2 separate regions of the Homo sapiens genome follow, and region 2 is linked to region 1. The links come from fine-mapping of genetic effects on gene expression. A gene starts in region 1. The other region holds a variant in brackets. All regions are shown on one strand. Distances are between the middles of the regions.

Region 1 (4,323 bases):
GGTTCACCCCATTCTCCGGCCTCAGCCTCCCAAGTAACTGGGACTACAGGCGCCCGCCACAACGCCTGGCTAATTTTTTGTATTTTTAGTAGAGATGGGGTTTCACCATGTTAGCCAGGATGGTCTTGATCTCCTGACCTTGTGATCCGGCTGCCTCGGCCTCCCAAAGTGCTGGGATTACAGGCATGAGCCACTGCCTCCAGCCTAAAATTCTCAGTTTTAACTTATCAGATAAATATTAGCAGACTTAACCCACATAAACAAAAACTTTGGGATCCTCAATAATTTTTAGGAGTGTAAAGGGGTCTTGAGACCAAAACTGTCTGAAAACTGCTGGAGTAGGCTTGTTTCCTCCTGGCGGTCTCTTCTGGTTCTTTCAGTCATCACATATTTATTATATCTATTATGCCAGGCACCATTCTAGATTCTGGGGATACAGGTGAATAAGATGGGCAGGCTCTGATGCACGGAACTTATTTTCTAGTTGGCATGTGTATGACAGAGAGAGAAGGAGGAGGAGGGCAGGTGATTCAGTTATGAAAAAATGAACAAGATAATTTCAGATTACATAAATGTTGTGAAGAAAATTAAACAGGGGAAAGTACTTAGGAGTGGGGATCTAAGTGAAACTGAGGCTGGGAAGATGACTTGATCCGAGCCTGGTTGGCAAAGGGAAGCTCCTGCTTTTTCTCTGAACATTTCTGCCCTGGCTCACTCCTCTGGCAATGAGCTTCCTGTGGTTCCTTAAACATCCCAGGCAGGCTGCTTCTTCAGGGATCCTTCGGTGTAGAAAGCACTCCTAGTTAAATTTTCATGCCAGTCACTACAGTCCAGATCTCCTTGGAGAGGCCTCCTCCAATCACCTATCTCAAAGAACACCCCTCTCACTAGCCATCCCCTTACTGGGTTTCATTTTCCTTCCCAGCTCTTCTCTCTGCACAATATTGCTATGTATTTATGTGCTTGTCTGTCTCCTTCCAGAGATTTGGGATGATTGCTATAACCTCCAGATCATTAAATAGTGCCTGGGAAGTGGAGCGCTCAGTAAGTGTGCTGGGTAATAACTGTAAAATCAGATATAATGAAAAAAAGTTATTTGGTTTTAAAGAGATAAATAAGAAGGTTGGGCACGGTGGCTCACGCCTGTAATCCTAGCACTTTGGAAGACCGAGGCGGGCGGATTGTCTGAGCTCAGGAGTTCGAGACCAGCCTGGGCAACAAGGTGAAACCCCGGCGCTACTAAAATACAGAAAAACTAGCCGAGCGGCGGGCGCCTGTAGTCCCAGCTACTCGGAAGGCTGAGGCAGGAGAATTGCTTGAACCCAGGAGGCGGAGGTTTCAGTGAGCCGAGATCGCGCCACTGCATTCCAGCCTGGGCGACAGAGCGAGACTCCGTCACCAAAAAAAAAGAGAGAGATAAGCAAATGTTAAAAGCAGGTTACTACAAGATTAGCAGCCTAGTGCCGGGCGCGGTGGCTCACGCCTGTAATCTCAGCACTTTGGGAGGCCGAGTCGGGCGGATCACGAGGTTAGGAGATCGAGACCATCCTGGCTAACACGGTGAAACCCCATCTCTACCAAATATACAAAAAATTAGCTGGGCGTGGTGGCGGGCGCCTGTAGTCCCAGCTACTCGGGATGCTGAGGCAGGAGAATGGCGTGAACCCGGGAGGCGGAGCTTGCAGTGAGCCAAGATCGCGCCACTGCACTCCAGCCTGGGCGACAAAGCGAGACTCTGTCTCAAAAAAAAAAAATTAGCAGCCTGGCGCCTTGGCTCATTACTGTATTCCCAACACTTTGGGAGGCCGCGGCGGTAGAATCACTTGAGCTCAGTAAAACACCTGACTCAACTAAAAAAAAAAAAAAAAAAAAAAAAAAAAGCCCGTCGCGACTGCACGCACCTGTGGTCCTAGCTACTTGGGTGGCTGAAGTAGGGGGATTGTTTGAGCCCGGGAGGTCGAGCCCTGATCATGACACTGCACTCCGGCCAGGGCGACAGAACGAGACCCTGAGAAAAAAGAAAAGAAAGAAAAAAAAAGATTAGCATAGTGACTTTCTCTTTGATGTAACCATAAATATTTAAAGACATCAGTGCCGGGCACATTGGGAACCTCAACAAAGTTGTTTCCGTTATCCATCTCCGACCAGAATTCAGGAAGAACTTTGCCTGTCTTGTTCCCGCTATAACCAATGACTCAACAAATGTTTGTGGAGTGAGTGGGTGACCCTCTCCTTTTACCAACGGTAAACAGCCCGCGGAAAGAAAAAGTGACTTAGCCAAAGTCTCTCCAGGCATTTGGGGCAGAGTCGGGACTAGCATAGTAGTATCCTGACTCTCGCAGGAGGGCTCGCTCCACTGTAGTTATTAATTCTCCTCTCCACACAACCAGGTCTAATCCGGCCAAAGTCTTCAATTCTTAAGCTAAGAAAAAAGGAAAATACATGTAAACTCTGTTTTGCGATAGACAAGAAAACAGAAGAATTAAAAATCCTCCTTCCGGGGTGCACCAGAATCCTCCCATCGCTCGGTCCTGTCACGTGACCACGCCTACTACACCAGCCACGTGAGCTTCTGAGCCGGCTTCCGCGCAGGCGCAGTGGATCTCTCTTGCGCCATTCCAAACATGGCGGCTCCACTAGGGGGTATGTTTTCTGGGCAGCCACCCGGTCCCCCTCAGGCCCCGCCGGGCCTTCCGGGCCAAGCTTCGCTTCTTCAGGCAGCTCCAGGCGCTCCTAGACCTTCCAGCAGTACTTTGGTGGACGAGTTGGAGTCATCTTTCGAGGTAATATAAGACATGGGCGTCTTTGTCCCTAGCCTTCCCTTTTTTCTGAAACGTGAACTGCGCGTACGCGTATCTCCTCCAGGGATCCGAGCAACTAATTCACAAATGGGGAAACTGAGGCTTAAAGTAAGTCACTTGCTTTAGGCTTCCCCGTGGCCCGTATTCAATTCAGGTCTGCTGGCGGGGGCGCGTAAACTCGACGTTTGTGGAAACGTGAACCCGAAGTTTGCCTAAACCCCAAACTTGGAACCCTTCCAGATTCCCAGCCGGTCCTTAGTCTCATCCCCGAGCACCGTTTCTTGCATCCCTGCATGTTTAGTAAGAGGCTCAAGCCTTTTCGGAGCTGAGAGTTTCACTGCTGTATCCTGTATCCTTTCCGCTGGGCTTCACCTTTAAACGATCCTAAAGGGACTCTTAAGAGCGGAAATTGACTTAAGTTACCAGGCGCAGCTTGGTACTAAGAGCTGAGGAAGGAGGAATGCTGGAGGTTAGGGAGGGAGGGAGGCACAGGTGACCCAATCTCTCAGTTTTGCCCAAGGAGTTTACCTTGTAGCAAGAAAGGTGAACTGTATATTGAGGGAAGATAGAGAGGTGAAAATAAGTGCTCTGGTGATTTCCAGTAGTCTTTAAAGTGGAAGATGAGCTATTCCTGTGTAGTAATAAAGTAATGTACGTTCAAATTGGAGTTAACTTTTCCACATTTTAAATCCCAGTTTTGCCGGGCGCGGTGGCTCACGCCTGTAATCCCAGCACTTTGGGAGGCCGAGGCTGGCGGATCATGAGGTCAGGAGTTCGAGACCAGCCTGACCAACATGGTGAAACCCTGACTCTACTAAAAATACAAAAATTAGCCAGGCGTGGTGGCGTGCGCCTGTAATCCCAGGTACTCGAGAGGCTGAGGCAGGAGAATCGCTTGAACCTGGGATGCGGAGGTTGCAGTGAGCGGAGACCGCGCCATTGCACTCCAGCGTGGGTGACAAGAGCTCGACTCCGTCTCAAAAAAGTAAAATAAAATATAAATAAATAAAAATCCCAACTTTGTGACTTTTGTATTGTATCTAATAGCACAGTGGTAAATGAATATAATTTGCAAGCGATTATTCAGACTGCATGGACAAAATGCTTTTACCACACGGATGTACAAAGATTTAGAAATAAATGATTTGAGATGGAGTCTCACTCTCTCGCCCAGGCTGGAGTACAGTGGCGCAATTTCGGCTTACTGCAACCTCCGCCTCCCGGGTTCAAGCGATTTTCCTGCCTCAGCCTCCCGAGTTGCTGGGATTACAGGCACCTGCCACCATGCTATTTTTTTTATTTTTTAGTAGAGACAGGGCTTCACTATCTTGGCCAGGCTGGTCTCGAACTCCTGACCTCGTGATCCACCCGCCTCGGCCTCCCAAAGTGCTGGGATTACAGGCGTGAGCCACTGCGCCTAGCCAGAAATAAATGATTTAAAGGACAGACCGTTTAGGAGGAGGAGGAGGAGACACCTTTGAGGTGGTGCTAAGTGGTAAAGGAAGGGGCTGGTGAACTTTAG
Region 2 (4,388 bases), 32 kb after region 1:
CTTCCTATGCTCAGCAACAGCTAAATCTGGCACACATGATTCCCATGTCCCCCGGTCCTTCAGCAGGACTGGCCACCAATGAATCCTCACCACCCACAGGCACTGGTGGAGACCCTGCTGAGGGCTGGGAGTGGGGGTGGGGAGGCGATGAGGCAGGCAGACAGGTTATCCTCAAAAGACTCCTGATCCAGTCTAGGCAACAAGGACATCTATGAAATGGCATGTCCCCAACAGGACCGGGCGGTAGATCCTAGAGCCAGCTGAGCTGTCTTGACAACAAGTGCTCCAGGATCTCAGAGCCAGAGGGGGCCACTGTGTGCCAGGGAAGGCCCCCAGCATGAGATATGCTGGGCAGCATCTCAGGCAGGAGGAGTGGCACAGGCGAAGGCCAAAGGGAGGGTGCAGATGCCGGGTTTATGAGCCGCAGGGAATATGGCAGGACATACAGGTCATAATCAGTGGTGGAAGCTTTTCAATGCCAAGTTGAAGCATTTGGAGCTTTCTCCAATGGGAACCACCAAAGGCTTTATGAAAAGTGATGCTGGTCATCCTAATACCAAAGCCTGGCAGAGACACAACAAAAAAAGAGAACTTTAGACCAATATCCCTGATGAACATTGATGTAAAAATCCTCAATAAAAGACTGGCAAACCAAATCCAGCAGCACATCAAAAAGCTTATCCACCATGATCAAGTGGGCTTCATCCCTGGGATGCAAGGCTGGTTCAATATACACAAATCAATAAACATAATCCAGCATATAAACAGAACCAACGACAAAAACCACATGATTATCTCAATAGATGCAGAAAAGGCCTTTGACAAAATTCAACAGCCCTTCATGCTAAAAACTCTCAATAAATTAGGTATTGATGAGATGTATCTCAAAATAATAAGAGCTATTTATGACAAACCCACAGCCAATATCATATACTGAATGGGCAAAAACTGGAAGCATTCCCTTTGAAAACTGGGACAAGATAGGGATGCCCTCTCTCACCACTCCTATTCAACATAGTGTTGGAAGTTCTGGCCACGGTAATCAGGCAGGAGAAAGAAGGGGTATTCAATTAGGAAAAGAGGAAGTCAAATTGTCCCTGTTTGCAGACGACATGATTGTATATCTAGAAAACCCCATTGTCTCAGCCCAAAACCTCCTTAAGCTGATAAGCAACTTCAGCAAAGTCTCAGGATACAAAATCAATGTGCAAAAATCACAAGCATTCTTATACACCAATAACAGACAAACAGAGAGCCAAATCATGAGTGAACTCCCATTCACAATTGCTTCAAAGAGAATAAAATACCTAGGAATCCAACTTACAAGGGATGTTTAGGATCTCTTCAAGAACTACAAACCACTGCTCAACAAAATAAAAGAGGATACAAACAAATGGAAGAACATTCCATGCTCATGGATAGGAAGAATCAATATTGTGAAAATGGCTATACTGCCCAAGGTAATTTATAGATTCAATGCCATCCCCATCGAGCTACCAATGACTTTCTTCACAGAATTGGAAAAAACTAAAGTTCATATGGATCCAAAAAAGAGCCTGCGTCGCCAAGTCAATCCTAAGCCAAAAGAACAAAGCTGGAGGCATCATGCTACCTGACTTCAAACTATACTACAAGGCCACAGTAACCAAAACAGCATGGTACTGGTACCAAAACAGAGATATAGACCAATGGAACACAACAGAGCCCTCAGAAATAATACCACATATCTGCAACTATCTGATCTTTGACAAACCTGACAAAAACAAGAAATGGGGAAAGGATCCCCTATTTAATAAATGGTGCTGGGAAAACTGGCTAGCCATATGTAGAAAGCTGAAACTGGATCCCTTCCTTACACCTTATACAAAAATTAATTCAAGATGGATTAAAGACTTAAATGTTAGACCTAAAACCATAAAAACCC[T/C]AGAAGAAAACCTAGGCATTACCATTCAGGACATAGGCATGGGCAAGGACTTCATGTCTAAAACACCAAAAGCAATGGCAACAAAAGCCAAAATTGACAAGTGGGATCTAATTAAACTAAAGAGCTTCTGCACAGCAAAAGAAACTACCATCAGAGTGAACAGGCAACCTACAGAATGGGAGAAAATTTTTGCAATCTACTCATCTGACAAAGGGCTAATATCCAGAATCTACAAAGAACTCAAACAAATTTACAACAAAAAAACAAACAACCCCATCAACAAGTGGGTGAAGGATATGAACAGACACTTCTCAAAAGAAGACATTTATGCAGCCAAAAGACACATGAAAAAAATGCTCATCATCACTGGCCATCAGAGAAATGCAAATCAAAACCACAATGAGATACCATCTCACACCAGTTAGAATGGTGATCATTAAAAAGTCAGGAAACAACAGGTGCTGGAGAGGATGTGGAGAAATAGGAACACTTTGACACTGTTGGTGGGACTGTAAACTGGTTCAACCATTGTGGAAGACAGTGTGGTGATTCCTCAAGGATCTAGAACTAGAAATACCATTTGACCCAGCCATCCCATTACTGGGTATATACCCAAAGGATTATAAATCATGCTGCTATAAAGACACATGCACACGTATGTTTACTGCAACACTATTCACAATAGCAAAGACCTGGAACCAACCCAAGTGTCCAACAATGATAGACTGGATTAAGAAAATGTGGCACATATACACCATGGAATACTATGCAGCCATAAAAAAGGAATGAGTTCATGTCCTTTGTAGGGACATGGATGAAGCTGGAAACCATCATTCTCAGCAAAATATCAGAAGGACAAAAAACCAAACACCACATGTTCTCACTCATAGGTGGGAATTGAACAATGAGAACACTTGGACACAGGAAGGGGGACATCACACACCGGGGACTGTTGTGGGGTGGGGGTAGTGGGGAGGGATAGCATTAGGAGATATACCTAATGTAAATGACGAGTTAATGGGTGCAGCACACCAACATGGCACATGCACACATATGTAACAAACCTGCACATTGTGCACATGTACCCTAGAACTTAAAATATAATAATAATAAAAAAAGAAAAGAAAGTGATGCTGGGCTTTGGGAGAATAGCTGAAGCTGTACGTTATGGACTGGAGGGAGAGAGGGCTGGGCTGTTAGGAGGTGACTGCCACCCAGCTAGACCAGGAATGATGGATGTGCAGGGAAGGGGCTGATGGGCAAAGTCTGAGCAGGAAGAGGAAAGAGAGTTGGCACTGAGCCTGGGTGACAACAAAGCTGCTCCACTTAGGGGAACAGCAAGGTCTAGATGGAGCCTGTCTGGTAAAATGTTCTGAGAAATTCAAAATGTTCTGCAGATCCAGAGGAGTAGCCCAGACCAGCTGCATCGAGGGCCTATCTAGCACCAACACCCTGAGATACCATTGCGTCTGAATTATAAATAACATGCAGCACTTAAAACCTTTTTTTTTTTCTTTTCGAAGACAAGACCCTGCAGGCCCACCAAGTATCCCACAGGCCTGTGGAGAAGGGTCTTCCCCACTTCGGGCAGGGGGGAGGGGAATGACCAAGTACCCAGAGCCCATCCCTTTTTTTTTTTTTTTTTTGAGACAGGGTCTTGCTATGTTGCCCAGGCTAGAGTACTGTGGCACAATCATAGCTCACCACAGCCTGGAACTCCTGGTCAAGTGATCCTCCTGCCTCAGACTCCCGAGCCAGTATTACAGGCATATGCCACCACGCCCAGCTAATTTTCAATTTTTTTTTGTAGAGATATAGTCTTGCTATGTTGCCCTGGCTGGTCTTGAAATCCTGGCCTCAAGTGGTTCTCTGGCTTTGGCCTCCCAAAGTGCTAGATTCCAAGTGTGAGCCACTGCACTCAGCCTCAGAGCCCATCCTTTATGGGGCTTCTTACTGCGGCCCTGATGCTGCTCTGGGAGGGGTATTGCTGGTGCAAGGGCGGGGGCACTGACCTCTGTGGCGATTATGTGATCCTTGCTGTCTCCTGGACACTGGCTGCTGGCTTGCTGTCTGCCCAGAGCCCTCAGCTCGGCCTGCAGTGCCTCCAAGTCCTTCTGGTGCCCAGAACAGGCAGCTTGCTGCTCCGACAGCTCCTGTCTGAGCGACTCTGGAAAAGGGAGAGCAGCAGTGAGTTAGGCGTTGGGTCTAGGCTGAAGCCTGTGTCATGGGGACAACAGTCTCTGGGGTGGGGTTGGATGACGTGGGTGGCTGCTGAAGGCTTGTGGTGGGTTAGGTTCCCCAAACCTTTTCCAAGGTAACAGTAACAACAGGGCCATGTGTGAAAACTGTTCTCATTTAAGTCCCACCACCAACTTTTCTGGTATGAATTATCCCCCACCCCCGCTTCATTTTAGGATGAGGGACCTGAGCATCAGAGAGGGTGAGCACAATGCCCAAAGCCACA

Alleles and levels. Alleles are on the strand shown, and positions count from the first base shown. SD is a standard deviation of normalised expression in the study named.
For the expression in whole blood of the gene that starts at base 2,611 in region 1, allele C in region 2 goes with a higher level than allele T (moderate effect, 0.51 SD a copy in GTEx).

What was found. PIP is the estimated chance that this variant, and not a neighbour inherited with it, causes the effect.
Region 2: its variant is the best candidate, but not a certain one, in a credible set for the expression of MED28 in whole blood (GTEx, PIP 0.65).

The regions. Positions count from the first base shown.
Region 1 is chr4:17,612,031-17,616,353 of GRCh38, forward strand. MED28 (mediator complex subunit 28) reads left to right here and starts at 2,611. Exons shown (of 4, transcript NM_025205.5): 1 at 2,611-2,783. The coding sequence starts at 2,625. MED28-DT (MED28 divergent transcript) reads right to left here and starts at 2,550. Exons shown (of 3, transcript NR_186331.1): 1 at 2,112-2,550; 2 at 1,902-2,008. RefSeq lists enhancers at 1,956-3,155, 2,261-2,550, 2,651-2,760.
Region 2 is chr4:17,643,701-17,648,088 of GRCh38, forward strand. FAM184B (family with sequence similarity 184 member B) reads right to left here. Exons shown (of 18, transcript NM_015688.2): 12 at 3,937-4,091. Among named protein-coding and RNA genes, the nearest start is that of MED28, 31 kb to the left of the region's middle. The variant T/C (reference allele first, on the strand shown) is at 1,925.